Homo sapiens: one gene and its partners. The protein of the gene in region 1 purifies or fractionates together with the protein of each later gene. This does not show direct contact. Each region holds a gene or a part of one and is shown in the gene's direction. Other genes may lie near its edges. The genes, in order: CAMK4, FAM110C, GIT2 and CKAP2.

Evidence for each region.
Region 2: the proteins of CAMK4 (region 1) and FAM110C purify together in Homo sapiens (affinity purification with mass spectrometry; one large-scale study listed by BioGRID and IntAct). This does not show direct contact.
Region 3: the proteins of CAMK4 (region 1) and GIT2 purify together in Homo sapiens (affinity purification with mass spectrometry; 2 studies listed by BioGRID and IntAct, with this or other methods). This does not show direct contact.
Region 4: the proteins of CAMK4 (region 1) and CKAP2 purify together in Homo sapiens (affinity purification with mass spectrometry; one large-scale study listed by BioGRID and IntAct). This does not show direct contact.

The regions. Positions count from the first base shown.
Region 1 is NC_000005.10:111,224,475-111,232,289, forward strand, and holds part of CAMK4 (calcium/calmodulin-dependent protein kinase type IV), read left to right. Parts: 5' UTR 1-9; coding exon 10-170; intron 171-7,815. UniProt on the Homo sapiens protein: Calcium/calmodulin-dependent protein kinase that operates in the calcium-triggered CaMKK-CaMK4 signaling cascade and regulates, mainly by phosphorylation, the activity of several transcription activators, such as CREB1, MEF2D, JUN and RORA, which play pivotal roles in immune response, inflammation, and memory consolidation.
Region 2 is NC_000002.12:39,007-45,917, reverse strand, and holds part of FAM110C (protein FAM110C), read left to right. Parts: coding exon 1-478; coding exon of another isoform or gene 479-528; exon of another isoform or gene 529-534; intron 535-2,852; coding exon of another isoform or gene 2,853-2,959; exon of another isoform or gene 2,960-3,109; intron 3,110-3,612; exon of another isoform or gene 3,613-3,800; intron 3,801-4,290; coding exon 4,291-4,310; 3' UTR 4,311-6,911. UniProt on the Homo sapiens protein: May play a role in microtubule organization. May play a role in cell spreading and cell migration of epithelial cells; the function may involve the AKT1 signaling pathway.
Region 3 is NC_000012.12:109,976,838-109,984,652, reverse strand, and holds part of GIT2 (ARF GTPase-activating protein GIT2), read left to right. Parts: intron 1-958; coding exon 959-1,045; intron 1,046-1,149; coding exon 1,150-1,280; intron 1,281-2,126; exon of another isoform or gene 2,127-2,582; intron 2,583-3,473; exon of another isoform or gene 3,474-3,606; coding exon 3,607-3,701; exon of another isoform or gene 3,702-3,748; intron 3,749-7,815. UniProt on the Homo sapiens protein: GTPase-activating protein for ADP ribosylation factor family members, including ARF1.
Region 4 is NC_000013.11:52,452,722-52,461,055, forward strand, and holds the start of CKAP2 (cytoskeleton-associated protein 2), read left to right. Parts: upstream 1-2,756; 5' UTR 2,757-2,835; coding exon 2,836-2,905; intron 2,906-3,266; exon of another isoform or gene 3,267-3,458; intron 3,459-3,801; coding exon 3,802-3,886; intron 3,887-8,174; coding exon of another isoform or gene 8,175-8,177; coding exon 8,178-8,253; intron 8,254-8,334. UniProt on the Homo sapiens protein: Possesses microtubule stabilizing properties. Involved in regulating aneuploidy, cell cycling, and cell death in a p53/TP53-dependent manner.

The DNA.
Region 1 (7,815 bases):
GCTGCGAAGATGCTCAAAGTCACGGTGCCCTCCTGCTCCGCCTCGTCCTGCTCTTCGGTCACCGCCAGTGCGGCCCCGGGGACCGCGAGCCTCGTCCCGGATTACTGGATCGACGGCTCCAACAGGGATGCGCTGAGCGATTTCTTCGAGGTGGAGTCGGAGCTGGGACGGTAAGGCGCGGGCTCCGGCTGGGGAAGCCCGCGGCGTGCACTGGGGGTTGTCCCTCTCGCAGCGACGGCTCGGAGGGTGCGGGAGCCTGCCTTCGTGCCCTTCGATTTCTCCCTACCTAGTTAGTGTCTTGAGAGAGAGCTAACCTTCATTCAGGTGCGGCTCGAGTCCTTCCCACCCCACCAGAGCGCCTAGGCCGGTGCAGCTGTAGGATCAGCCCGACTCCCTCCCACCTTCCCTCCTTCTCGCAGGCTGCCACTTCCCTTGGGTGACAGCTCCCACCGCACGTGGGCCCTGCTTTCCCAATTGATATCTTTGCTCACGATTATAGCTTGCCAGAGGGTCCTGTTTGTCTAGTTATTGTTTAGGGTGGGGGCCGGAGGGTGCCCCTCCAAATCAAGACAGAATTATTAAGTTAGATTCCTCCTCCTTCCCCTCGTCAAGCTCTCCAAAGCAAGTGACACGAGAAATTAAACTTAAATACTAGCTTCCCTGCAGAGTCTGCTCAGGAGTGAAGGGAGAAATGAATCATTTAAGAGAGTTGAAGGCAGAATAATGAACTAGTGTGGCTTTAAAGAGAAAGCAGCATATGGGATCCAGGCAGTGGTAATTAGTGAGAATGCTGCTGCTTCCCTTCTTTCATGGGCTGGAGTGATTTATTTAAATTATATATGCAACAGACCATCTCCCTAGGATTGCAGATATGTCCCCTATCCCTCCTCTGAAGATCCAAACAGGTAGCAGTTTGGCCTTCTGCATGATTCCATATGCTTTCGTATTTGTATCCATTGAAAATTATAGTTTTCTTTCCCTTACTTCCTTTTTTTTTGTCTTTTCTCTCTGTTATCCATAGGTAAGGAGATTTATTTTCAACACTTATTTTAGATCCAGGCTCTTTAGTATAGGGAATCTGAAGATGTAATTTCAACGGTTGACAAGTTGCAGCTTCTGTACTTACTACTCCTTTGCAATTTCATTTTTCATTCTCTTTTTGCTGGAAATAGTATTGCTAACAGCCTTTTTATTTTTTCAAGTCATTGGAGGATCCAGAGCAGGATTCTGGATGTTGGTATTTAGTGGGAAGATGTAATGATCACTGCCCACTCTCCCCCCACTTTGCTAGTACTATTGAAGGCTCATTGAATATAGATGTGTAAAATAGGCAAACTTCTGAATGAAAATTCAGTGATTTGTCACTGTTAAAAATGTTTTGAAGTATTTGAGCACTGAATAATGTATACATAAACATCCATTTTTGATCAAGTTTTTCAGTATTCATCTGAAGATCTATTATATATATAGGTGGAAATGAAAGGACAATGATGTCGATTTTTGTAAGGTCCAAAACATGCCTGTTATTAATTGTATGATGCGTGACAGTGGAACCATGTAAACCTCTGAGTAAAGGGATGATCTACTTAAAATTGTTTACTGGGTGTTTTATAAACTACTGTGTAGTAGAGGAAGTGCCTGATGCTGCTGCAGGGACTGTCCCAGTAGCACATCTGTTTTCAGAGTAACATTAACCCTAGATGCCTCAAATAGGCTGACTTATCCACACACGTTGTCTTTATGAATAAGCTTCATCGTCATGAAACTCAAGAAATTCACTTTAATTTGAAAAATGGGAAAAAAATAAACTGCCAATTGTATACCCCTATGAGATGGTAGCCTGCATAGGAAAAAACTGAGAAATTTGAAGTTTGGGTTTTTTATTTTTCAGTTCAGAATTACGTGTTGCAGTAAATTTTGGAGGACAAATATTAATCGGTTATACAGAAGCTTCTCAACTTATGATGGTGTTATGTCCCAATAAGCCCACTGTAGTTGAAAATATCAGAAGTTGAAAATGCATTTACTACACCTGTGCTAACAAACGTTGTAGCTTAGCCTAGCCTACCTGAAACATGCTCAGAACACTTAATATTAGCCTACATTTGGGCAAAATCATCTAACATAAAGCCTATTTTATAATAACTGTTAAATACCGTGTACAGATGGGATTTTGTAGACATGGTGAGATATGAAACACAAAACACAATATTCAAAAAACACTGACAACAGAGAACACTCTAGAGTTCCGGTTGTTTACCCTCCTGTGGTTAACTGGGAGCTGTGGCTAATGGCCGGTGCCCAGCATCAGAGAGAGTATCCTACCATGTATAGTTCAGGAAAAGATCAAAATTTGAAGTACGATTTCTACTGAATGCTATCACTTTCCCACCATCATAAAAGTCGAAAAATTGTAAGTTAAGCCCATCCTATTGGAGACCCTCTGTCTATACATTGCTAAGATTCTCGCTCTATTATCTAGTCTTATGATTACTGTAAAAGATCACAGAGTTAAACTACATTGAGGAACAATAAAAGCTAAAATGTCTTACTTAGGCTCTGTTTGTCAGCAGTAAAGCGTATTGTTAGGTAAGTTTTCTGTACATGGCAGCATTCGTGGGGTGCATGCTTACTCTGGCTGAGACTTTGAGAAGTATCATTTTCATTATCAGAAATTTTTAAGTAAATAAACTTAAAACATCAACTACTATTCTAGATATAATTATTAAGAATCGATAGAGCCAGAGAATGCAACAGAATGATGATCGTAGATATTGGCTGAGTGACTAAAATCTTCTTTCTTCCTACACTAGAGATCAAGTTGAACTCAGGTCATCAGTTTCAAGCCTTTACTCTCAGCTTTGGACCAAATCCACCTGCTAGTGTGACTCTAATTCATTAGTAATGCAGTTGTCATTAATATACTAAGAGAACAGTGCTTCTGGTGTTACGTGTTGCTGTTGTGGTTAGCTCTAGAAAGTAGACAGTCTCCACCAGAATTAGTGATTTGTTGGCTCCTCCATTACAGTTGTCTGTTGTAAAGTAGTGACTCCTGATTGCAAGAAGATTGGACGGTGACCACTGGGGCGATACACCCTGAGGATGTGTTTGGGAACTCAAGGGGAGCTAAACTCCCAAGGCTATATCCACCTGAAGCCCCTGGATAGTGCTGGCGAAGGCAGGTGCTGGCAGCACTGATCCACATGGAGCCATTGAGACCAAGACAGATGTGCTCACTTTCTTTTGGCAGGGAGGGCATAGAGTATAGGGGTTACGGGTGAATTAAAAGTATCAGGCAAAGTAATTTTCCTAAAATCACATTTGAAGACACTGTTTTGTTCATAGAGTTTTTCAAAAAGTTTACAAAAATCATGACACACACACATTCAACTCTACTTAAAAATACGAATTGGCCATGATCCTATTCAGGGCTCCAGATCCTCGAGAGCAGTTGGTCTTTTGCCCAGTGATTTGAGAAACTGGCATTTTAAAGGCTTTTCTGAGGGAGAAGGGAGCTGCCTCTGGTCCAGATCCCGCCCAGTGGTTTGGCACATGGAATGACAGGAAATGGCCCAGCCTGCTTGGTGGTGCAGATTTCGTCTGTGCATGCAAACCCATGTCCTGTTTTCAGTTGTCTCACCTTTAGTTTCTCACTGTTGTTCCATGTTGAAAGAAAAGATGATAAGAAAACCAGATGTATTCCCAGACATACAAATCCAAGGAAACCAAACCAAATGAAAGATAATTAGAACAAGAGAAGAATGTGTTAAACTATTTTGGAACCTTTTTTTTCTTTAAATTTAGTTCCCATTCCACTTACTGTAGTTTCTTTAGGCTAGGCACTTTGCATACTCCTCCCCACTGCAATGTAATTTTAAATAATACATTTATGTGTCACATTTATGTAAACACAATTATGTGTATACATTTATAATTTTAAATACATTTATTTGTCAACTCAATTAAACTAATTATATAGGATCCCTTGCTATATGTATTATTGTTTAGGAACCAAATAGATTTCCATAGTAAGGGGTGTGTGTGTGTGTGTGTGTGTGTGTGTGTGTGTGTGTATAAAACAGAAACAATTTCATAAAACAGTGTTTATTCTTATTACCAGCAATGCACTTTAATATTTTCTATTATATGCTGTTTGATTTCATCTATTTTGTTAAAAAAACTTGGCTGAACCCATGTGATTTCACATCCCACTAATGTGTTGTGATTCAGTTTGAAAAGTGCTGTTGTAGGCCATAAATCTGTGTGTGATAGATTAAGCTATGAGGCAGAGTCTTTTAAAGAAATTCCCTGCAGACCAATTGGCAACATTGGGTGGTATCCTTTTGGCACAGCCCTGTAGAGAAAAAGGCTCCTATCTTTGCCTCCAGGTCATTACTGATTTTTCCCCTTCTAAACATTTTGGAAAAACTCTGGTGTCTCCCTAAGGTCTGCTGGGCACACAGTAATTTGAACTGGCTAAGAGTGCCAGGGGCTGTGTTGGGAAGGAACTCAGAGACTGAGAAGTGGTATATTCTACATGGTAACATGTATTCTGGCTCCAGGTCACAGTGAGCAAATGCTTTCTATAAGGAAACACGAAAGCGTGCATTTTCTAAGAGAAGGGCTTCAGCCAATGTTCTTGGCTTGTCTTAGTGCTCTTGGCTCTGGTTGATATAACAAGATGTCTTAGACTGGGTGGCTTAAACAATAAATATGCATTTCTCACAGCTCTGGAGGCTAGGAAGTCCAAGATCAGGGTCCCAGCCAATGCATTTCCTCAGTTAGGACTCTCTGTTTTGCAGATGGCTGCCTTCTCGCTGTGTCGTCACAAGGCAGAGAGGAAGAGAGAAAGAGAGGGGAAGAGAGAAAGAAACCAAGCTCTCTGGTGCCTCTTCTTACAAGTGCACTGATCCCACGATGAGGGGTTTAGCTGCATAACCTCATACTAAACATAATTACCTTCCAAAAGCCCCACCTATAAATACCATCATATTGGAGTTGGAATAAGGCTTCAACATGTGAATTTTGAGGGGACACAATTCAGTCCACAGCATGGCTGCTGAAGAAACAGATTCTCCTTTTTTTTGGTCAACCAATTTCCTAAACCATTCTCGTGACCAGAGCTTCTTAGATCCTTGATTTTTTCCGACACCATGCTTTAGGGCCCCATGGCCTATCTGGGTAGGTATACTGCTGGCTTCTGATCTCCTGCTACACACACTGCACTTAGAAGCTCCAGCTCTTGGGGGATGGTAGGTTTTTTTATCTTACTAGGAATTAAAAATATACTTGTGCCAACCCTGTCTTGTTCTCTGTGCATCTGATTCTTTTCTCAGGCAGTTGACTCAGGAGCAAGGTGGGATTGCAAGTGGGAGAATAAAAACTGGGGCTTCATAGGGTCTTCCCAGGAACACTGACTGTAAGCTTCCAGAAGGCAGAGTCTGTGGGTTTGGCTGGTTCACTATTATGTGCTCATGTCTAGCAGAGCACTTAGTACTTAACAGGTACTCAACAAATGATTTTAAAGAGGGTGAATCAATGATAATGAAATGGGCCGGGTGCAGCATGTGTACCCGCTTCCTCTTCTTTGAGGTCTTGGTCCTGATGTCGTAGTGATATTGATTCTAGTGACCCTAGGATAAGGAGAATACTGTAACCCTTTTCTCTTCTCCCTAAAACTTGCCTGACAATAACCCTAATCTCAATCAGCATTGGTTTTCTTTCTTCAGTGTGAGTATTGGTAGCTGCCACCTCTGTAGCTTGCTGTTGTTAAAAATAATGTCACTTTTCTGTTGGCAGAGTGTTTTGTGGCTCTGAAATGAAAGGGATTCAGTTTCACCTTCACTGTCACTTTACCACAGGTGTATCAGAATTAGGAGTTAAATCAAGTTGGACTAAAAGGCATGAAATGCCTCCAAGCTATACCATCCACTAAAGTTAATGCATAGTAAATGCTAAATTTGGAAATATACTCACTGTAAAAACCTTAAAATCAAGTGAAGGCTACGATAACATCATTGCTTTAAGAGCACACTACTTTTCCATGTTTAAATACTGTCACAAGGTTAAAAATAACTCCAGATTTTGGGGGAAAAAAAAAAAAAAGACACAGGTGCCATCTGCTTCTAAACTGTTCTGGAGAACTTGAAAGAGAGAGAGAAAAAGAACACTAACCACAAAATAGCTTCAAAGAACTTTCTTGTAAACACTTTACCCTCAGACATATATGTGTGGGTTATGTGTTTGCAGTAATACATTTAAGAACAAAGTAGTGTTAGCCAAGTGAAGTGTTTCAACTACTAGTTATTTTTTGTTAATATTTTTTTTCTTTTTTTCCTCTTTTTTTTTAAAAAAAATAAAGGGTTTTTTAAAAACTCTTTTGGGAAAGCTACGTATCTAATAAACAGAATATTGATTTTGTAAAATTTCAAGGTCAAATTCATACTGCAAAATATGGTGTTTGAGGCAAGGAACCATGTAATTCAGGACAAAGAGGAACTTTTCATGAAGTTGATAGCAGCTAGAGTCAAGGTTTTACTCAAATTATATTGATCTTTACCTCAGTTTTCTTGATCTATTTGTAGTACAGGATTATCTGAAGATTTCATGACTCCAATGGTTTAATTAGGAAGTTAGGTCTAAATATCGAAGGCATAGTATTAGCACATAAAGGATGTGGACCCTTCAATACAGTTTGTCAGAGATTTTCCTCAGTCATTATCTTGTCAGTGGTAAAGATCAAATAAAGAAAAGAACAGTGTCTGGAGAGACAGTGATTCATAGTGATGGGTAAAGGGTAATGCAAGTAGACCTTCCTCTTTTCTCTTAGACTAGGGTTTCTCAATCTAGGCACTATAGACTTCTGGCCCAGGAAATTCCTTGTTGTGGGGGCTGTCCTGTGCACTGTAGGATGTTTAACAGTGTCCCTGGCCTCTACCTACTAGCTGCCAGTAGTGACACCCTTATAAGTTGTTAAACCAAAACTGTCTCTAAACATTGTCAAATGTGTCCCCTCTCTCCTCTTGAGAATCATGTCTTGAAGCTAGTGTTTTACACATTTTCTTTCAGTTATGTAGATAGTGAACAACAACAAGGAGATTGATAGATTATGTTAATTTGGCTTTACTGAGTATCTGCTACAACCAAATGTTTCTCCCATTTCTATGTATTACCATAAGATTTCTGTTTTATGTGTATTCCACTTCTGCTATTTGCTTAATATTTTTATTTAAATTACCTTATTTTGTTAACCTAAATTTATTTACCAAGAATACAATTTTCACTAAATTGAAAACTGTGAATAAAAGCAAATTGTATATGCCATAAATAGAAACAAATTGTAAAAATAAATTGTAATGGAAACATAACATTTTTAGTAAATTATAGCTAGACTTGTCCACATGCAGAAGGCTGTAACTCTGAGGACTGATTTCTTCCTTAAAAAAGAGATGATCAAAGATTAGCAGAGTTAAAACCAGAGTAGCACAAATTGAAGTTTTCTTCTTGATGTAATCAGAATCATTGAAAAGTAATTGAAAAGAAAAGGATGTTCTCGCTCTCTCTTTTATTCCTTGTTATTTAATTCCATGCGTTTGTGCTACCTAAAGTCCTCTTGTTTATAAGTCTAAGCTTTTCAATAATTCTGACCTAGACGATGTATGCTGGCAGTGTGCATGTGGTGGGGTAAGGGCCTAGAGTGTAAATGAGCATGATAAATCAATATTTGGCCTCCAAGTGCATAGGGTACTACTAATAAGGCACCAACAATATATTTAATAAAAGATAAATTAATGAATAAGTAAAATGAATAAAACT
Region 2 (6,911 bases), on another chromosome or scaffold:
GGCCCCGCGGCGGACCCCGCAATCCCCGAGACCCCAGCCCCAGCCGCGCGGTCCGCGGCGCCCTCCAGTGTCCCGGCCGCGCCCCCTGGGCCAGAGCCGCGGGTGGTGAGGCGTCGGGGGCTGCAGCGCTCACAGTCGGACCTCAGCTCCCGCTATTCCGCTGCCTTGGCCGAGTCTGACACCTTCTTCCAGTACTGCGGCCTGGACCCCGAGGTGGTGGAGGCCCTGGGGAGGGAGAACTTCACCGCGGGGTCGGACTGTGTGACCCTCAAGGTGCGCAGCGTGAGCGTCGCCACCTCCGGCAGCGGCTTCTCCCGGCACAGCGGCGGCGACGACGAGGGGCTGCAGGAGGAGGAGCTGATAGAGCAGGTGCCCAGCACCACTTCGGTCATCGAGAGGAACGCCCGCATCATCAAGTGGCTGTACACCTGTAAGAAGGCCAAGGAGACCCCCAGCCAGGAGCAGAGCCGGACCCGAGGTGTGTGCCCAGAAGGCTGGGGGCGGGGCTGGCCGTGTGCGGGGCTGTGAATCTTGGTGAGTGTGACCGAGCTGGGCGATGGCCAGTTACAGCTGCTTAGAATTGAGTGCGATTTTGAGCTACAGTGTGAAAGGGACCCAAGAGACTGACGCAGAGGCTTGTGAGTTGAGCCCCCGCTGCTGAAGAGCAGAAGGTACCAATCCAGGCACCTGCTGGTCCAGGCCCTTAGGAGTCTGCTGCGTCTGGCTGCCTGGAAAGGCAATTCTGCAAATTAATATGTCCCATTTGGCTTATTATTGTGAAAACAGGAGAAATCCAAAATGCTGCCAGAAAGCAGTTTTACACCCCTAGTATTCTTTCCTGAGCTGAAAACAGCTTGAGAGCCCTAGTTCCTGAGTTCATTGACCTGTGCTGTGGGCGGTCCTGATGTTTGATTGGAGCTGACCAGTCCACCTGCAGCCCTAGGTAGGCGCTGCTGTGTTACTGGAACAGAAAGGAAGACTCCCTGCACTTTCCTGGAGGCCTGTGCTGAAGTGGTGAGAACTTCTCCACAGGATCTTGTAGCACTTTGGCATTCACTTAGCAACAAAGATCTTTATTTGGCTAAATTTTATTTAAATTGTTTTGAGAGCTTCAGGTTTTTAAACTGGGGAAATTGGACTAGATTGTAACTAGAGTCTATAGTTTATTTGCCTCTGATGACACTACAGGAAGTAACCTCCCTTTGGACAACCAGTAGTGCCGGATTGACCTCGAGCTCTTTTTGCTTTTCACTGGGGAACTGAGGAGTGCTGGTCTTCACTGTTACCTGCTCTTCCCTATGGGCGTCTTGGAAAGTAGTGAAGAGAAAGAACCTTTTCAGGGCTGTCTTTGAGAACGAACAATTTAAACTTTGCGACATCTTTTTTTTCCTCTTACCCTTCAATGACAACTTGCTATAAGTAAATTTTAAAAATCATGAGATGAAATTATTTTCTGCCATTGTGATAAACTAAGTGAAGATGCATGGCAGCCTGTAGAGTTTGGGGGAGGCTGCCCAAGAGATGTTTGCACAGGGCTCACCTATGTTTGACAGCTAAAAATATCTCCAATAATTTCTCTGGCTATGACTTTAGTACAGACATGAAAATTAATGAGAAGAAGATAATTCATTCTTTTTCTTGAACTCAGAAGGCTCAGGACTTAAGTTCTTCCTTATAATTTATAGAAGATTTGTGTTTTCCACTAGCCTAAGTTCCCAACAAATATATATAGGCAAAGTTCTAAAAAGCAAACAAACATTAATTTGTAGTTTTCACAAATTGTCTTTTGGATCTGAGATGAATGAATGCTGGCAAGGGTATTTCCATGATGGCACCATGTGTAGGGCAGGAGCTTTGGAGAGTGGCCAGGTCCGTGGAGGGACAGTGTCTGGTGGATAGAGCACTAAACCAGAATTAAGGGCCTGTCTTATGTTAGCAAATGATTCCTGCACTATAGACCAGGCGTCCTTTGTCCATAAAAAGAAGGGAGATAGGCGGATGGTTTTCAACCTCTACATTTTCTAGTCTGTGTAGTAATAATCTGTGTTGCATGACTGAAACCCAGAAATGGAAAACAAACAAAAAAAAGTTGTCTATTGAAGTACGTGAGAAGTAAATTTATGAATAAGCTCCCTCCAGGTAGCCATAGCATGTGCAGGCAGTAGGTAGACTTGGTGGTATAAATAGTGGGGAGGTAATAATGTGGCATACAAATGAAACCAAAGTAAAACCTGACAACATAAAAATAAAAGCAGCCTGCTCTGATCCCTCCAGACCCAGGCTGGTTCCCATCTCGAATTAGCCAATGTCAAAAGAGTGACCTGAATGAGAATTTAGTTGACTTCATAGACTAAATCCTAAAGACCTTTTAGGCTTGGACCTATGAAAAATATAAGAAGTTTAGTTAGCTTGTGAGAACTTTCACTTTTATGACAAAGAGAAATAGTTGAAGGAAGAGGGAAAGTGAGAGCAGGTTTGGGAAGGCACTAAGGATGGAGGCAGGAAAAAGGCTCATGGGCTTCTTCCTCCCCTCATGTCTCCCTCCACCTGAATCCCGTTTGTTCCAGACTGGAGACAATGGCAACTGTCTTCTGAGAAGTTTCACATTATTTCTCAGAGCAGGGGTACAGTCCCACAGAAGCTACCCCAGTTTTTATATGGAATTGGCAGTCACCAGCACTATAAAGATTTTCTTTACTAATGTACTTCCCTAGACCCAAAACAGCACAGGCCTCTTTGAAACTGCAATGCAGAGACTTACTGCCCGGCTACCAGGGGTGGGGTGTATGAGGAGAACAGAGTTGCCTGGGCTTTCTCCAGATCACCGGAACAGTGTCTGCTCATGACCTTAGCCCCTTCACAGCTCCCCACCTCCCAGCACTGGTGTTCCCACTGGAGGAGACCAGCAGGGAAAGCCACGACAGAGTGTGAACACCTGGTCAGTGGGGCGGTCCTCTGACTTCCTGCAGAAGTCCCTTGTTCTGAGACCAGTTCTGCAACTTCTGGAAGATGTGGAAGCAGGAATTTAAGCTGTGCTTTTTCTGCTGAAATTTATAAGGATTCATTTTAGGATTTCTTGAAAGATTCAGAAAACTTGAGACGAACAAAGGTAGGTTTTCTAAGTGAAAGAGAAAACAAATATATTTGGAGGTTTTTGTCCTCTTGGTAGATAGAGATTTACAACTTATAATAAAAGTGTCTCAATTATAATAGAACTAAATACGTTTATAAGTTTCTTGCCCCATGGGGTAAAGATAATTGCTTTTCAAAACTGAGACTATCACAACTGGGCAATGACTCGTATAATCCGCACACAAGTCCTCTGGGGAACCCATGAGCAGTAGTTGGTTGTACATGGGTAATTTTGGTATTCTGTTTCCCAGAGCTTAGTTTATGAAAATATCTCTTTTATCTGCTGTGATGTAGTCATCTTCCTGTCTTTCAATTCATCAAACTAGGGACTTGTCAAAATTTAGATCTTTCTGGTTTTCTGTTTTGCGTAGAATATATAAGTTGCTGCTTTTAATACTGGCATAAATAACTTGTCCTTTGGGAAATTAGGCATAAAACATTGCTTAATTTCAAGGCAAAAATGTTCGGACAATTCCACAGCTATCTTCACATTTATCCTTGACACAAAGAAAAAAGAAATACCTGTAGAAGCGCATCGAAAGCTCCTGGAACAGAGTTGTGTCTCATATTTGCAAAGATGCAGAAAAAATAAACCCGGGACATCCAGCTTTCTTTTCCTTTCTTCTTTGACTATTCTGAGAAGCTATGCGACTAGGAGCACATTTTAGGTAAACACGTGGCTTGAGTAGCCATAAGGCCACTCTTCCCTGTCGTGTGACCCGCGCCTGGGCCTTTAAGAGATATTGGTGTTTGAAAAGGGAGGAATCTGTTTGCCCTCAGATATTTAGTTCAACTGCCTGCATTGCTTCCTATTTTGTTGTCCAACTCTGTAGTAGTTAGCACTGGCCTTACCAACATGTAAAGAAATTTTCTTTACTGCCCCATGAGTAGTTGGAGGCAAAGAGAAATTTTTAAAGCGCAGAAAAAGGCCTGCAGGGAGATGGAATTTGTTCTGCCAGAGAAACGAGATGATAGCTGTATTTAATAAAGTTACTGACCTCTTGTCAAAATTTAAAACGCAAAAGAAGATGTTTCAAAATGCAGAGAATGTCAGAAAACAAAAACTACAGGGACCAGACCAGTATAATGTTTAGTTTTCATTATACTAACTTTTGTCTAGACTGGAGTTGATTCACTATTTTTTCTTTAACTCCTCAGGAAGCAAACCTTCCCGATGATGAAGACTTCTTGAAGGATTTCATGGGTGATTTGGGATCCCAGGACCATTTGGCTAGTGTGCCTAGGTGACCACATGATTGCTGTTTTACCAGGAATGCAGCATCCCATTGACAAAACAAGTGCTCTGAGAAGGTTTAAAATACTACAGAGAATATGGGAACACAGACCTTGAAATTTAGCTGAGTTGTAACAGCTGAAACTCCAAGAGGTGTCTTCCTTGTTTGAGGTGAAACTAGTGTTGCTTCCAGAGGGCAGCTGGAAACCGTAAAGCTGTTTGGAAATCTTTTTGACTGACTTGCTGACAAAGAGGTACTGTGATGCATTTTAACAATATCTAAGTTGATTTTTTTTTAAATCAAGGAAAATAAAAACCAAGCATGAATGCTATGGTATGTGCCCCTTTTGACCATCCTGGGCTGATTAACATCATTTAAATCAAAGTAATCATAAAAAGGCATATTCTACTTCAATTATGTGGTCAAATAAGAGTAAACACACACACTCACACATGCTGACCCCAATTGCCAGAGCATTACTGCACTATAAATTACGGTTAATTCCCAAATTATACTACTGTTTATCTTATTTAACAAGTCAGAAAGCACTTTTAAAATAACTTGAGGGCTACAAGGTCATTCTATTAATGTCATTCTCCATTCGGGTTGTAGGCATGTGGAAGTACCCATTAAAAGATAAGTTAGAGTTTAAATACTGATAAACAAAACCTTTTATTGCAACTGGACAGTTTCTGGAGAGTTAGCGGAAGAATCTTGGAGTTTCCTTTGGTCAGATGAATACAACATTTCACTTTTGCAGCACTATTTAGAATGTACTCCATGGTTCTCTTGTTCCCAACTTCCAAAAAGAACAGAAAACTTTGGTTTACACAGAACACGGGCATCTGAGGCAGGACCTCTTCCCTGCCCTTTGATCTGACTCACACCTCCACATATGACGTAATCAACCCAAATTTGACACCAATTCACTCTTTTCTGCAAAGGGCATATTTTGAAACAAGGGACAGCCTGAGGGCGGCTATAATGAGAATGTTCATGGGGGTTACTGGGTCCCTAATTCTGAACTTGCTTATGACACCCAGAGTGAATAGATTCAGATTCAGAACCTTCTGAGAAATAACCCAAAGAAAATTTGTTACCCAGCCAATTCTTCGAAAGCTTAATATCAAAATATATCTTTTCAAGAAGAAAATCGTTAGAGAGAAGAATGTGGAGGGGAGAGAAATGGGTTTCTCATTGATATGATATTTTGTTAACCATTTCATTTTGAATTATTCAAGTTTTGGTTAATATTGTATTCTTTTTTCGTAACTATTTTACCGTGAGAGTAGGTCATTGGGTTACTTAGATATTTATTTTTACACAGTTATTAGTCTTCAGATAGTTTTATTTTACTTCATATGATTTTAGTTTTTGTCAGTATAATTTTAAATCATGTTTTTCTTGGTCATCTCTTTGTGTATATTGTGTAATTGGATTTTCATTGACTGCAAGTGGAGTGTTTGCCACTCAATTCAGTACTCAGTACTATGGTGACTTGTTTTCAAATAAGTCTCAGATACACATTTAGGGAGCCTTTGCTGGCCGAATATAGACTCTGTCAGGACAGCAGGTCCCCTGATCTAAGAATTTTCCCCAATGGTTGCTCTAAAAATGCTGCTATTTTGCTGTTCACTGTATTGCACTTAGTTAAAAAGAAGATAATGTGAAAGATGAGAGCAGTTTTTTAAAGGATCTTTTCATATACCCAATTCCCTTATTTTCAGATGTCCCATCAATTTTAGATATGAAAGCTTTAAGTAAAAGTGTGTATGCCTTTCTACTGTCAGAACAGGATGGATGCAGCCTGGGTCAGATTTATTTAAGATAAAAATCATGCAGACTCATCATTCATATCATAGGTGAAAAATGTAAAAACCAAATGGTTTCCACTAAAGCCACCAAGATCTTTTAGAAATGTTTGCACCTTTGGTGGTGGCACAGGAAAAGAGAAGAATTCAGCTGGAGTGAATTCTAGAAGTAGATATCAGAAACGGGGCATGAAGAACAGGGGAACTGGGTGGCATCAGACTCCTAAAGAAGTGAGTTAATTTTCCTTCCCTTCCATTCAGATTCATGCCACAGCTCCATATCTTGAGTATGTGTAAGAGGTGAGTTCCTTCTTCAGCCAGGGGCGGTGGCTCATGCCTTTAATCCCAATGCTTTGGGAGGCCAAGGTGGGAGGATCACTTGTGCCTTGGGGTTCAAGGTTGCAGTGAACCATGATTGCACCACTGCACTCCAGCCTGAGTGACAGAGCAAGACCCTGTCTCTAAAAATATATATAAAAAGTAAAACTAAAGAACTTCTTGCCTAAACCTGAATTACCGCAATTTGCTGAGTGACTTTGAGAAAAATCAGACTGTTTAGTTCAGTCGGGATGAAAAGCTTGCGATTGCTTCCCACAAGAATGGGCAATAGTGACGGCTGCAAGGTACTTTTATTTGTTCATGAAAGAACGACAATTTTTCAAAATGTAATTAAACATAATAGAATGTTTTAAACTACTGGGCACTGAAACTGGAAGAAAAAGGAGGCTTTATT
Region 3 (7,815 bases), on another chromosome or scaffold:
CAACATAGTGAGACCTCATCTGTATTGAAAAATAAAAAGTTAGCAGGGCATGGTGGCCGGCGCCTGTAGTCCCAGCTGTTTGGGAGGCTGAGGTGGAAGGATTGCTTGAGCCCAGGATACTGAGGCTGCAGTGAGCCATGATCACTCCACTGCACTCCAGCCTGGATGACAGAGCAAGCGAGACCCTTTCTAAAAAGAAAAATGCCACCTTTTAAAATTTTTTTTATTTTTTATTTTTTTTGAGACAGGGTCTCGCTCTGTCACCAAGGCTGGAGTGCAGTGGCATGATCACAGCTCACTGCAGCCTCCACTGCCCAGGCTCAGGTGATCTTCCCACCTCAGCCTCCTTAGTAGCTGGGACTACAGGTGCGCATGCCACCACACCCAACTAATTTTTGTATTTTTTGTAGAGCCAGAGTCTTGCTATGTGGCCCAGGCTGGTCTCAAACCCCTGGGCTCAAGTGATCCTCCAACCTCAGCCCCCCAAAGTGCTGGGATTACAGGCATGAGCCACTGCATCTGGCCATTGTTGACATTTTTGAGATGAGGAAAGTGAGGTTCAGATTGCTTAAAGCCCTTTCTCCAGGCCACACAGCTTGAAGTGGGTATAGTTTGAAATTCAGGTCTGTCGTATGTCAGAGCCACGCATAGTCACCTCTTCACACAGTCCTGCCTCTCACTCAGGTTCTGGTTGTGCCACTTCTTAGATAAGTCATGCATTTGGGCAAGTCAGCCTTCACAGCCCTAGTTTCCTTATCAGTAAAGTGGCCTCACTCCACCTTACAGCCCAGGGACAGTTGTGACTGGCAAAGGAGAGACTGGTCCATGCACTTTACCGAGACAAATAAAGATTATGCGTTACTGATGTAACATATATTAAAATGGTCTATCAGCTGCCCTAGGACATCATTCTTTACACCTCTAACCACGATTCCTTTTTTGTTTCTGCGTTTTTCAGCAACTCCATTCGAGCGTGAGAACAGGGAATCTTGAAACCTGTTTGAGACTGTTATCTTTAGGAGCACAAGCCAACTTCTTTCATCCTGTAAGAAAACATGAATTGCTTCAGATATTGAAACTAAGTGAGTTGTGTTCATGTAGCCTTTATTTAATGTGCTCTTTTGCCTACTTTTTATTAATGATTCTTAGGAAAAAGGAAACACCCCACTCCATGTTGCCTCCAAAGCAGGGCAGATTTTACAGGCTGAATTATTGGCAGTATATGGAGCAGACCCAGGCACACAGGATTCTAGTGGGAAAACTCCCGTTGATTATGCAAGGTAAGAGACCTAGATTCTCGCTACTTCTCTCTGGGATTTTTTTGTTGGGTGTGATTCCTTGTTAAGTAGCTAAGTTGTATATGTTGATATTGAACCCCTTTAAAGATGTACGTTATTTTATTTTACAGATGAAGACATTTCAAATGCATATAAGCTCAGCCTGGCAAAGTTGAGGAAGGCTAGAATCATGAACCAGTGTGCTAAGCTTCCAGTCTTTTACTTGATCCTTTATAACACAGTGATGTTTGAGCTGTAGTCAGATTCCAAATCAAGTATCAAGAATTACAGAATGTACTCTTCTGTTTTTTAATACTCTTAGTTATTTCTTGAACTTAAAAGCAAATATATACATAGATATGTGATTAAACAAGTATAGTAAAAAGTTAATTGTAAGGTTTGGGTAGTAGACATCTAAGTGCTCACTCTAGGCCAGGCATGGTGGCTCACACCTGTAATCCCAGCACTTTGAGGGTCCAAGGCGGGTGGGTTACTTGAGGCCAGAAGTTCGAGATCAGCCTGGCCAGCATGCTGAAACCCTGTCTCTACTAAAAATACAAAAAAAAAAATTGGCTGGGCATGGTGGCAGGCACCTGTAATCCCGCTACCCGGGAGGCTGAGGCAGGAGAATCACTTAAACCTGGGAGGCAGAGGTTGCTGTGAGCCGAGACCATGCCACTGCACTCCAATCTGGGTAACAGGGCAAGACTCTGTCTCAAAAAAAAAAAAAAAAAAAAGTGCTCACTGTAAAATTATTTAAATTTTTCTTTATTAATAAAGTCCTTGAAAAATAAATCTATAGGTTAGTCTTGAATATCATTTAAATGGCCAAAGATCAGTCATCTTTCCTTCTTTTTCCAAAGTACTTTTATTAACTGTGAAGCACAATACTCTGTTCCACAGAGGATAAAATGGGTGAATAACAAAACTCTGCCTTCCCAGAATTTACTCTCTTGGAAAAGATGATTCATAAATGCCTGAAAGAGTTCAAGGAGGCAAGACCATATGGGATTCATTGCCAAAATAGATAATTGGTCTTAAAAAGCATATATAGGGTTTCTTCATTGTGGTCCAAATCATTTAAGAAATTTCTTCAGCTGGTCTTGAAGAATGGGTTGGATTTGAATGTGTGAAGGGAGAGCTGAAGCATTCCAGGTAAGAGGAAAGGCAGGAGTCAAGATCAGGAGGCAGGGAGGGACAAAGTGTGTTCAGCACAGCAGGAGACCTGACTGGAAAGAACAGAGTGGGTCTGGGAATAACAGCAGGAGTACAGTATTGCATGGTGCTTCATTATTTCACAGAGCACTAAAAAAGAAAAGAGTTCAGCCAATTAAATTATGGTGTATCATCAATTGTAGGACATTTCCTGATTTCACAGATACTAAAAAATGAAAATAAGATGTGCCTCTCACAAATCAAAGCTGTGTGGTAGGTTGAAGGGTGTTGTGAGTGCCTTGAATGGTGGGGAGAGAAGCTGGCTGAAACTATCAGGTTGGTGCAAAAGTAATTGCAGTTTTTGCCATTACTTTTAAGGACAAAAACCACAAAATATACTTGATCTTGGACGAGAGCCCTGGGTAAATGATACTTATTATCACTTACCTTGGAATTTTCGCACTTGTACCTTGCATATAATAATCTCAATATAATTTGTATCCTTGTTGCTGAAAGGATTCTAAGCAGCCTAAGTATTTATTTCATGGATGTTGAAAGGTAAACTTAATATTTTCTGTTGTGCAAATTGAAGATAAGGAGGCAGAAGTAGCTGCAGGCGTGAGCTGTGCGTTAGGTTGGCGTGTCTCTCACTGATTTGAAGCCTTTGAAGTGGTTACTAGACTCTTATCCAGAGTCAGACTGGCTGCATCAGCATCACCTAGGGGAAGGACCTTCTTCAACATATTGGCCCCTGGCCCCATCCTGTCCCCATTGATTCAGAATTTCCAAGGGTGGGGCCTGCACATGGTATATTTCTAGAAATGCGCTAGTTAATTTTTGAGAACTTCTACCGTAAACCATTGATTAATTTCATTTTTTTACCTCATTAAATTAAGTCATTCTGTATCCTTCCCTCTCATAAGTCTTTGAATTTCTTATTAAATATTCTATTTTGGCCTTAATAAAGGAAAGGCGATAGTTCAGATGGTGAAAACAGTTTATAAAAGTGGGATGCAAAGTAGACTTCAGAAATCTACCTACCACAAGAAGGTTGATGATTCTCAAAAGTCTTGTGTGATAAACTGCTCAGGTGTCTCAGGAGACGTCTTTGTACTCCATTTTAAAGTCAGTGAATAGTGAGCAATATAAATGGTACTTTGTTTTCTCTTGGTAGGCAAGGAGGGCACCATGAGCTGGCAGAGCGCCTCGTGGAAATACAGTATGAGCTAACGGACAGACTAGCCTTCTATCTCTGTGGCAGGAAACCAGGTGAGTGGATGGAGAATGACCGTTTCACATCTCCAGTTGGGAAGGTTCTAGAAAAACAAGTTGGGACACTATTTGTTATTACCTCCTCTGCTGTAACATATCACTGAGAAAGCTATACATATGGCTTTTAATTTGAAAGGATAACTACAGAATTGTCAGTTACATGTAAAAGATATAAAGTTGGACAAAACTCCTTAGATTTTTCATTTTTAATAGCTCTAGAGAAATGACTATTTCAAGAATCAGACTGAATAATCAAAGCAAAATTGAATGGGTACCACAGTTCTTGAACATGGTGGGACTAGGAATGTAGGAGCAAAGCAATAACCTTTGTAGTTATTTGAAAAATTCTTCTTAAGGAATGGAAAAAAAGTCCAGAAGTAAACTTTGCCAAAGCCAACTTGGCTATTTGTGATAGGGAACAGGGGTCAGCAAACCATGGTTTGTAGCCCAAATCTAGCCAGTTACTTGTTTTATTAAACAAAGTTTTGTATCGTGCCACTGCACTTCAGCCTAGGTGACAGAGTCAGACTCTGTCTCAAAATAAATAAATAAAAATAAATAAATAAATAAATAAAGCTTCTGCCGGGTGCAACGGGTCATGTCTGTAATCCTAGCACTTTGGGAGGCCGAGGCAGAAAGACTGCTTGCACCTAGGAATTCGAAAGTAGCCTGGGCAAGAGGGGTGAGACTCCGTCTCCACAAAAAAGTTTTTTAAAAAATCAGCCAGGCATGGTGGTGTGCGCCTGTAGTCCCACGTACTTGGGAGACTGGGACTTGAGCCCAGGAATTCAGGGTGGCAGTGAGCTATGATTGTGCCACTGCACTCCAGCCTGGGTGCAGTGACAAAGCAAGACCCCCAACTCTCTAAAAAATAAATGAATAAAGTTTTATTGCAAGAAAGCCGCGCCCAATTATTTATACCTTGTGTATGGCTGCTTTCACATAACAACAGCAGAGTTGAATAGGTTAAGTCGTTGCAACAGGCCAGATGGCCACAAAGCCTAAAATATTTACTATTTGGCCCTTTAAAGAAAATATTGGCCAACCCCTGATGTACAACATTCACATACATGTATGCAGTGATTCTCCATCCTGGTTGTATGATAGAGTTAAGAGCCTCTGGTATAGTTTCAGTTCTGGGTGAGATGGAGTAAGCACACCCCACCGTGTCTCCTGCAAAATAGAACTAACAGACCTGGACCAAATGCTTGGAGTAGCTAGCTAAAGACTCTGAAAAGTAAATCCTGGTTGGTAGATTAGGGAACTCAAAAGTGTCATCAGCTGGTGGTGAGTGTCCTGTTTGTCTTACTTCTGATAGGACTTCAATGACAGCCTGAAACCTGGAGGTACATAATGAGTGCAAAAAAGCCTTTTTCTGCGGGGTGCGGTGGCTCACGCCTGTAATCCCAGCACTTTGGGAGGCTGAGGTGGGCGGATCATGAGGTCAGGAGATCCAGATCATCCTGGCCAACATGGTGAAACCCTGTCTCTACTAAAAATACAAAAAAATTAGCTGGGCATGGTGGCAGGCGCCTATAGTCCCAGCTACTCGGGAGGCTGAGGCAGAATTGCTTGAACCCAGGAGGCAGAGGTTGCAGTGAGCCAAGATTGCGCCACTGCACTCCAGCCTGGGTGACAGAATGAGACTCCATCTCAAAAAAAAAAAAAAAAAAAAAGCCTTTTTCTGGTTAAAGAGCAGGAAATGGGACTTCTACAGGACAGAGAGGAAGGGGATTCCCCTGGGGTTTTTTCCTCCTCCTCCTTCCTTTTTCTGATCTCTCCCATCCAGCCCCTAGGCAAGCCTGTGGCTGCAATAGCAGCAGCAGCAGTGGCAGCACAGGTTCCTAAATCTCTGAGCAAGGGGATGAGGGGGGATCCTGATTGCTTGTCTTTTTCTCTCTATTCTCTCACCATCTGCCCAGGAGGCAGAACCTCACCTGGTCAGTTGCCTGCTAAGACAAAAATATGAACATTTTTGCATAAAGTTTAAAGAAGGCCCAGAGTCTCATAACAAAACATTCACAGTGTCTAGGATATCATCCATAATGACTTGACATCTGAGTAATTCTCATGTACTTGCCAGGGAAGGCAGCCAACAGATGCCAACCCCAAGATGACACAAATGTTGGCGTTATCAGACAAAGATTTTAAAGCAGCTAGTAAGACCATGCTATAAGAAGTAAAAGCAAACATTCTTGAAACAAACAGGAATATAGAAAGTCCCATCAGAGAAATAGAAGATACAGAAGAGAACCAAATAGGAATATTAGAACTGAAAAATACAAACACTAAAAATTTAAAACTTACTGGATGGGCTTAATAGAAGAATAGAGATGACAAAGAAAGTCAATGAATTGAAAACAGATCACTAGAAATTATCTGGTTTAAGCAACAGAGAGGAAAAAAGAGTAGGAAGAAAAGACTGAACAGAGTCTCAGGGACCTGTGGGAAAATACTAAAATGTCTGACATTTATGTCGTTGGATTCCCAATAAGAGATGAGAAAGAGTGGTGTGTGCAGAAAACGTATTTGAAGAAATATTGGCCAAAAAAACCCTCTAAATTTGGGACAGGCTCAATGGCTCACACCTGTAATCCCAGCACTTTGGGAGGCTGAGGCGGGCAGATCATTTGAGGTTGGGAGTTTGAGACCAGCCTGGCCAACATGGTGAAACCCCATCTCTACTAAAGATACAAAAAGTAGCCGGGCATGTTGGTGCGCACCTGTAATCCCAGCTACTCAGGTAGCTGAGGCACAAGAATCACTTGAACCTGGGAGGTAGAGGTTGCAGTGAGTCCAGATTGAGCCACTGCACTCCAACCTGGGCAACAGAGCGAAACTCCGTCTCAAAAAAAAAAAAAAAAAAAAAAAACCTCTAAATTTGGTGAAAGACATAAACTTACAGATTCAAGAAACTTAGAAAATTCCAAAGAAGATAAACTCAAATCCACAGTTGAGACACATCAAAATCAAACTGTTGAAAACTAAAGTTGAAGAAAACATCTTGAAAGCAGCCAGGAAAAAGTGACACATAACATATATAGAAAAACAGTGATTTGAATGATTGTGGATTTCTTATCAGAAACCATAGAGATGAGAAGGAAATGAAATAATACTTTGTTTGTTTGAGATGGAGTATCTCTCTGTTGCCCAGGCTGGAGTGCAGTGGTGCAATCTTGGCTCACTGAAACCTCCGCCTCCCAGGTTCAAGCGATTCTCTTGCCTCAGCCTCCTGAGTAGCTGGGATTACACGTGCCTGCCACCATGCCCGGCTAATTTTTGCATATTTAGTAGAGATGGGGTTTCACCATGTTGGCCAGGTTGGTCTCGAACTCCCGACCTCGTGATCCGCCCACCTCGGCTTCCCAAAGGGCTGGGACTGCAGGCATGAGCCACCTCACCCAGCCAGAATAATACTTTTATTATTATTATTATTTTGAGACAGGGTCTCACTCCATCGCCTAGGCTGGAGTGCAGTGGCGTGATCTCGACTCACTGAAACCTCAACCTCTTGAGCTCAAGTGATCCTCCCACCTCAGCATCCACAGTAGCTGGGACTACAGGTGTGTGCCACTGTGCCCAGATAACTTTTGTATTTTTTGTAGAGATGGGGTTTCACCATGTTGCCCAGGCTGGTCTTGAATTCCTGAGCTCAAGTAATCCACCCACCTGGGCCTCCCGATTACAGGCATGAGCCACTGCTCCTTTTTTATTATTATTATTTTTTCTCATCTTCTTTGTGATGGTAGAAACAATACTTTTAAAGTGCTAAAAGAAAAGAGCTGTGAACCCAGAACTCTATATCCAATGAAAATAACTTTGGAATGAAGGCAAAATAAGGACATTCTAACAGGAAAAAAAAGAATTATTCTTTACTTTAACAGAAATGCTAGAGAAAGTTCTTTGGGTGGAAGGGAAATGATGCCAGAGGGAATCTTGGAACTTTAGGAATGAAAGAAAAACAACAGAAATGTTAAAGATGTGGCAGAGTAAGACCCTGTCTCAAGAAACAAACAAAAAGTTGAAATTGTCATACATATCTTAAAGCTGTAACATTGTCAGCCAGGTGCAGTAGCTCAAGCCTGTAATCCCAGCACTTTGGCAGGCCGAG
Region 4 (8,334 bases), on another chromosome or scaffold:
AAACGTCATGTGGCTTATATATGGCAATAAATGAATAGACAAAAGGTTTTAATTTTTATGAAGTTCAGTGTATTTTTTTCTTTCATAGTTCATGGAATTTGCCTATTTAAGAAATCTTTTTTCCACAAACCAGATATTGATACTGATTATGAAATCTTTGCCTAACACAAAGTCACTAAGATTTTCTCCTATAATTTCTTCTAGAAGCTTCATAGTTTTGGTTCTTACATTTAGGTCTATGCTTTTTTTTTTTGAGACAGAGTCTCACTCTGCCGCCCAGGCTGGAGTGCAATGGCACAATCTCGGCTCACTGCAACCACTGACTCCTGGGTTCAAGCGATTCTCCTGCCTCAGCCTCCCGAGTAGCTGGGATTACAGGTGCCTGCCACCACGCCTGGCTAACTTTTGTATATTTTGTAGAGACAGGGTTTCACCATGTTGGCAAAGCTGGTCTTGAACTCCTGACCTCAGGTGATCCACCCGCCTTGGCCTCCCAAAGTGCTGGGATTACGGGCATGAGCCACCACGCCCAGCCATCCCCAGGATGTTTTTGCCAGGACCTCCCACCTTCTGAATCAGATGGTTCCTTTCAGTCCCAATCCTACTGGACCTCTGTAGTGCCCAACACTGTGGTCCATTACCTCTTTCTTCAGCTTCTCTCTTCCCCAGACTTTGTGACCCCATTGTGTCCCCATTGTCCTCCTAACTTTCAGATTGTCCTTCCCTGTTCTCTCACAGGCACTTTACCTTCTTCACATGACCACAGGAGGAACGACTAACACTAATTAATCATCAGTACTCCAGGTGCCTGCAGTTTCATGGTCAGCTGTGTTGGCAAAGAACTGTTCTGAAAGGAAATCTTTTTTGTTTTGTTTTTTTTGTTTGTTTTTTGGATCTTTTAGAAAAAGGTCTGCTTTCTCTGCAATAATTGTGTAGCAGTAATATTAAAAAGTGTCTCAAAAATAGACATATCATTGGAGTGGGTGAGTCTGGAGATTAGAGGAGAATTGCCATTTTGAAAAACCTAGCAGTTTGGCAGGTTTTCCTATTCATCTCAGCCTACTGAGATCTCCATGGTATCCTTTGAGTCAATTTCTTTTTTTACCATGCCCACTTATAAAAAATTATTGAGGTTCACATAACATAAAATTAATCATTTTAAAGTGAACAACTCAATGGCATTAATACATTTACAATGTCACCCAACCACTACCTCTAATTCCAAAACATTTCACTTACTTCAAGGTAATGAAACCCTTGTCCATTAAACTGTCTCCCAATTCTCCCCCTACCCTCAGCCTCTGGCAACTACTATTCTGAGTTATTTCACTATGGATGTATCTATTTTAGATCTTTCATATAAATGGAATCATACCATATGTAACTTTTCATATATTACTTCTTTTACTTAGCATAATGTTTTGGAGGTTTTTGAGTCACTTATTAACGCTGTATTTTGTTCTCACTTAATAGAAATCCCTGGTTGCCCCACCTGTCTGATGAAACTTTAGTAAATAATCAACAATAATGACAGACGTATTTAAACAGCAAGTTATATCTTAAGGATGGTGATGGACAATGTTAAACTAAAACTGGGACATTTCATCAAGTAAAAAACTACACAAAATCTCAAACCAAATTCCTCATTAGCAAGACGCTACCATAAGATGTCTGAAGAAAAAAGCAGGCAGAAGTGGGAAAAACTGACCACAGCCGAGGGCCAGCTGTGGAGGCCCTCAGACCTGGGAAGGGTAAACGGGGAAATCACATCCTCCCGTCTGTGTGCCCGGAGCACCTAAAACCTGGCTGAAAGAGTCCAGTCCAGCCTTACTGCAGTGATCAGGCAAGAAATGTAAACCCAGTGCTTGAAACCAGGCAGGTGCAGTCCAGACTCGCCCTCACTTCCCCACTGCCACTCTTAAAACCTTCTAGCCCTGACTTGTTTCGTTCTGTCATGTGGATTGAGTGTTTGTGTGGGTTTTATGAAGGTGGTATTTTTAGATGAGAAAAACGAAGATTATGGCGGCACACTTAACCACACAAACACAAAACGTCTGTAACAAATGCTATTTTATCTTCAAAGGAGAATTATATATAACCTTGAGGAGGGGATGAGGTTTATCTTCATTTTTTTCTGTTTCTCCTCCTCTCCTCCCTTTTTTGCATTTGATAATTGCTTAGAATAAAGGTATGGAAAGTAGATCCCAATTTCAGTTCCCCTTCACACGCTGTGCAAACGTGGACAAACAACCTCTGAACCTGTCACCTCTCAGTGGAAAAAGTGGTGATAACGTCCCACCTCAGAATTGATGCTCAAAATGAAGCAGTATTTGTGAAACGAAAATACACACGCTCGTGGTACGCCAGATCGGTGTTTACGTCCTCGTCAGTGAACGCGTCGATGTTTAATAAGAAGGGCAGCCAATCAACACTTTTCTTGTCTTTTTCTCGTCTGCCTTCCTCCAAGGACTGTGAGGGTCTCAAGATGTGTCCCATCTCGGTTGTTTGTCAACCTAGTCCTGCTATGTCGTGGGGACTGAGCAGGCCGACTCCTCCCCCATCGCACGTCCAGGATGAAGAGCGCTGTTTAGGTTTGAAACCTGCAGACTCAGTCCCAACCGAACTGGGCAGACACCAGACCGGCCCCGGCAACTGCAGTCCAGGCTCCGCCTCCCTACGCCCATTGGCTTATTCAATTCACGCAGGAACCAATGGGCGGAGACGGCAGCCGCGCCGTCTGACGGCTTAGCCGCGGTGCAGACTGCGGCGGCGGTGGTCTGAGGAAGTTCTATCTTGGCGCTAAAGCGGAGACGCATCCCCCGACCCGAGGCTACGATGAGCACACCGGCCGTGCCCCAGGACCTGCAGCTGCCCCCGAGTCAGAGGGCGCAGTCCGCATTCAAAGGTGAAGGCCGCGGTGGCGGTGGCGGTGGCGGTGGCGGTGGCGGTGGCGGGCGCGGGCCCGGCGGTCGGGGCTCGGGGCCGCGCTGGCGCGCTTCACCTCTCCCCCGCTCTGTGAGATCCCTGAACGCGGCGTCGGCCTCGCCCTGCCTCATTCTTGGCCTTGTGGAACGGATCATAAAAACAGGAACCGCTGCGTGGTGTTACTGTGCGGTCGCTGCTGGCTGGGATGGGCCCTCCTAAGAAGGAATCCGTTAGGCGAGGGGAAACGCGCGGGCCTCAGGCCGGGGTCGGTGTCGGAGACCCTGGGTCCGCTTGGGGGCGGGGCTGCACAGGTTCAGGGACCGACTGCGCCTGCGCTGGGTCCTCCGCCTCTTAGGTCCCTAGCGAATTTCTGCAGGGCTGGGGTCGCATCATGTGTTATTTCCAATTTCACAGCTTCTCCTTCGACTTTATGGAAACCGAGGGTTGGTTGGGTCTTCAAAACTAATATTGTTATTCCCTTATTCTACACACGGGAAAGCAGAAGAAAGTAATTCTCATCTAACCCAGTTCTGGTAAATTAGAACTTTCGAGTCTAGTGCCTCACTTCTACCATTTAGTTTCTTAAAGCTTGGCTAGCAGGAGCTGTATGTAGAAAATGATGTTCTCCAGATTTTTCACAGGGAGTAGAGAATGTGATTCTTATGCAGAGGGGTTTTGGGGACCTGTTGTGGTAACAGTCTCTTCTAAGGTGATTTCTCAAAGGCAATATTGAATTGGAGAATTTTCTGTTATATAGATGTGACCTCAGGTGGAACCAGCTTTGGAAGTAAACTCTTCATTTAGTCAACAAGATTTATTTGCCGTTATCGATGTTTTAACTAATATTGACTTGTAGCTCTTACCTTTGTTATCTAGAGCAAAGAAGACAAAAACTCAAGGAACATCTGTTGAGAAGAAAAACGCTTTTTGCATACAAGCAGGAAAATGAGATGTTATCCAGGTAAGGTCAAGTTTATTTCTTTTCACTTCTGTAAAATTGTATCAGATCTGTCCAATGAAAATGTAAAGTAAGCCATATCTGTAATTTTAAATTTTCTAGTAGCCACATTTAGAAAAACTGCTTACATATTATTTTACGTCTTTTTGTGGTACAACGTCTTTAAAATCTGGTGTCTATTTTACAGTTACAGGACATTTCCATTTGGTCTATCCACATTTCAAGCACTCAGTAGCCACATTGGCTAGTGGCTACTTTATTGGATGGTGCAGCATTAGATCATCGTTTTATTAATTTTTTTTTTTTTGAGACAGAGTCTCACTCTGTTGCCAGGTTGGAGTGCAGTAGCGTGATCTTGGCTCACTGCAGCCTCCACCTTCTGGGTTCAAGTGAATCTCCTGCCTCAGCTTCCCAAATACCTGGGACTGACTACAGGCAAGTGCCACCATTCCCTGCTAATTTTTGTATTTTAAACAGAGACCGGGTTTCACTATGTTGGCCGGGCTGGTCTTGGACTCCTGACCTTGAGATCCGCCCACCTCAGCCTCTGAAAGTGCTGTGATTACAAGGATGAGCCACCGCGCCCGGCCTAGATTATCGTTTTCTACGTAAATTAATTCACAGTCTAAGAGAAAAAAACAATTATAAAGCAAAGTATGTGCATAGACTAGATTATCAACTTACTGTTTACACCACACAAAGGTCAGTCTTTCTATTATTTAGCAAAGCTTTTTACTCAGTGTATGGGGGAGTTCATCAGGGAAGGGTTGGGTGGCCCTCCCAAATGCTTAGAGATTACTAGTTGTAGTCTCAACCCTCCACAGAAATATCTTTATTATTTTGTTAAAATATCTTAGATAGTACATAGCTGTAGCAAAAACAAAAACCCATGAAAGTAGATGAAGCAGAAAGGCAAAAGGTCCCCTCACTCTCTAGGGATAACCAGTAATAACATCCTTACAGGCTTAGGCTGGGTGCTGTGGCTTACACCTGTAATCCCAGCACTTTAGGAGGCTGAGGTGGGCAGATCACGAGGTCAGGAGATCAAGACCAGCCTGGCTAACACAGTGAAACCCCGTCTCTACTAAAAATACAAAAAATTAGCCAGGCATGGTGGTGGGTGCTTGTAATCCCAGCTACTGGGGAGGCTGAGGCAGGAGAATCGCTTGAACCTGGGAGATGGAGGTTGCAGTGAGCCGAGATCGTGCCATTGCACTCCAGCCTGGGTGACAGAGCGAGACTCCGTCTCAAAAAAAAAAAAAATTGTCTCAGGTAAACAAAATTGTATATACCACCCACACACATATTCAGAGAGTGGAAATGATAACGCAAATGGGATAAAAATTTTAACAATAGGTGGATCCTGGGTAAAGAGTGTACAGATATTCTTTGACCTGTTTATATTTTTGCAACTTTGTGTAAGTTTGGCATTCTAAAATTTTAAAAATAATTTCTAACTTTATATTAATAAGTTGCTTTAGTTTGGAATAAACAGTTTATCCTTCACAAATAAATCTTTTATTTCTTTGTTTAAGACAAAAAGGTGATCCTAGGTTTTTTATTTGAATAAGTAAATGAATGGTGATAACCGTATACTGAAATAGGAAGCCTGAAGGAGGAGCTGGGGAATTAGGAGTTCTGTTTTGACTATGTTTGAGGTACCAACCAGACATCCAAGCAGATATGCCAAATAATTGTGTGTCTGAAGTTCAGGGGAGGGGTTGGGGCTGGAAGCATAAACTCAGGAATTGATTAGTATACAGATGATATTTACTTAAAAACCTTAGGATGGAATGAAATTACTAGGGAATAAGTAGAGATAATATGGATTCAGACAGTGACTCTCAACCACTTATTTAAATAAAGAATCCAACAAGGTCAGGGGTTTATAATACTCTTAATAGGAAGAAAAGAAAATTCTAAAACGCTTCATGTGGCTTAAGTACTACATTTATTCCTTTCAGAAAACAGATGTTGGCTGGGTGCAGTGGCTCATGCCTGTAATCCCAGCACTTTGGGAGGCTGAGGCGGGTGTATCACTTGAGGTCAAGAGTTCTAGACCAGCCTGGCCAACATGGTGAAACCCCGTCTCTACTAAAAATATAAAAATTAGCCGGGTGTGGTGTCAGGCGCCTGTAATTCCGGGGAGGGCCGAGGCAGAAGAATCGCTTGAACCTGGGAGGCGGAGGTTGCAGTGAGCCAAGATCAGGCCATCGCACTCCAGCCTGGGTGACAAGAGCGAGACTTTGTCTCAAAAAAAAAAAAAAGGAAAACAGATGTCAATTTAAATGTTATCACCTCAGCAGTGAATCATTAAATAAGACAACCAACCTGTGTTGCAGCTTTTCAGAATTAAACAGTTATATTTTACAATCTCTAAAGTATAGATATCCTAAGACTCATTTCCGATAACCCTTCTGAGGGCAGTTTTATAATAAGACAGAATAGGATTAAGTCTCCCCACTGGACAGGTGAGTAAGATGGGTTCTTCTTGTCATCCTGAGTTTTGTTTTGTTAGCTGGCAGTTAGCTACTAAGATACCCTGTTAAGTGGCACATTTTGATCTTCCTTCACCATTGTTCAAAATGTATAGTACAGGTTGTGTCAAAGTTCTGTTCCTTCTCCAAGCTGACAGAACAAATAGATATGAAAGGCAATGTAAGCAAAATTATTAACTACTAAATTATGTCAAATGTAAAATATATATATATATATTTTGTTTTGTTTTGTTTTTTTGAGACGGAGCCTTGCTCTGTCGCCTAGGCTATAGTGCAGTGGCGCGATCTCAGCTCACTGCAACCTCTGCCTCGTGGGTTCAAGCGATTCTCCTGCCTCAGCCTCCAGGGTAGCTGGGATTACAAGCATTTGCCACCATGCCTGGCCAATATTTTTGATTTTAGTAGAGACAGGGTTTCGCCGTGTTGGCCAGGCTGGTCTCAAACTCCTGACCTGAGGTGATCTGCCCACCTTCTCTACCCAGAGTGCTAGGATTACAGGTGTGACCCACTGTTCCTGGCCTCATTTTTTTTTTCAGAGAATGAGAGATCACGCATTTTAATGTGATCTCTGAACTTAGGATCTGTCTTAAAATCAATGGCATGTCTAATTGACCGTATTTTTTCCTATCGTTATAGTACACAAAATTGTTAAAATCACTTGCTAAGAGATGCTCACAGTCTGCCTTAGCCAGTTTATAGCTGTAAAAATAAGTTAAGTCAGTTTCTTGAGGAGGGATTTTCTTTGCAATACCGCCTAGAAACTAACGTTCTTTTTTTTGAGAGATGATCTCATTCTGTGTCACTCAGCCTCTAGTGCAGTGACGGGATCTTGGCCCACTGCCTCAACTCCCAGGCTCAAGCAGTCCTCCACCCCAGCCTCCCAAGTAGCTGGGACTATGGCACCCACCACCACACCCAACTAATTTTTTATTTTTTTGTAGAGATGGGGTTTTGCCGTGTTGCCCAGGCTGCTCTCGAACTCCTGAGCTCAAGTAATCCCCCCACCTCGGCCTCCCAAAGTGCTGCTATTACAGGCATGAGCCACCACAACCAGCAGTGCATATTCTTAATGTATCCTAATATAAATTAAGCTGTGAATGGCATATGGTAATTTTTGGATCACTTCTGGGAGGGCTCTTTAATAAAAGTATTTTCAATGTAGTACATCTGTTACTAAGTACTTAAAACTAACCCAAGGAGGTATTACTTACTAAAGGTTATTTGAAGACTTGTTTGAATGACTTGAGAATGATTTGAAATAAGATTATTAAGTATTTACAAATTCTATGGGCAGAGAGTGTTAGGACTTTTAGAAAATATCTTTAAATTCCTCAGCCATTTGTTTACACTATTTTTTTTTGAGACAGAGTCTCTCTCTGTCACCCAGGCTGGAGTGCAGTGGCTCGATCTTGGCTCACTGCGAACTCCGCCTCCCGGGTTCATGCCATTCTCCTTCCTCAGCCTCCCTAGTAGCTGGGACTACAGGACTACAAGCGCCCGCCACCATGCCCGGCTAATTTTTTGTATTTTTAGTAGAGACGGGGTTTCACTGTGTTAGTCAGGATGGTCTCGATCTCCTGACCTCGTGATCTGCCCACCTCGGCCTCCCAAAGTGCTGGGATTACAGGCATGAGCCACCGCGCCTGGCCGCTTAGGACAAATTTCAACTCAGGTCTTTTTTAAATTTAAAATTAGTAAGTCAGTTAATTGTTAACATTGCCCTCTTCTTCCTCCCCAAAAGGAAGCCTCCTTGGTACAGGATTGATTGATCATTTTGTTTGTTTGTTTTTAAGTAGTAGAGATCAGAGAGTTGTGACATCTGAGGACCAAGTTCAAGAAGGGACTAAAGTGCTGAAACTTAAAACAAAAATGGTAAGATGTGGACATAGCACTCTTAAACTGTCCCCTTTTCCATTTTGCCTTTCCTAAACACTTTTCTTAAATAATTCTTTC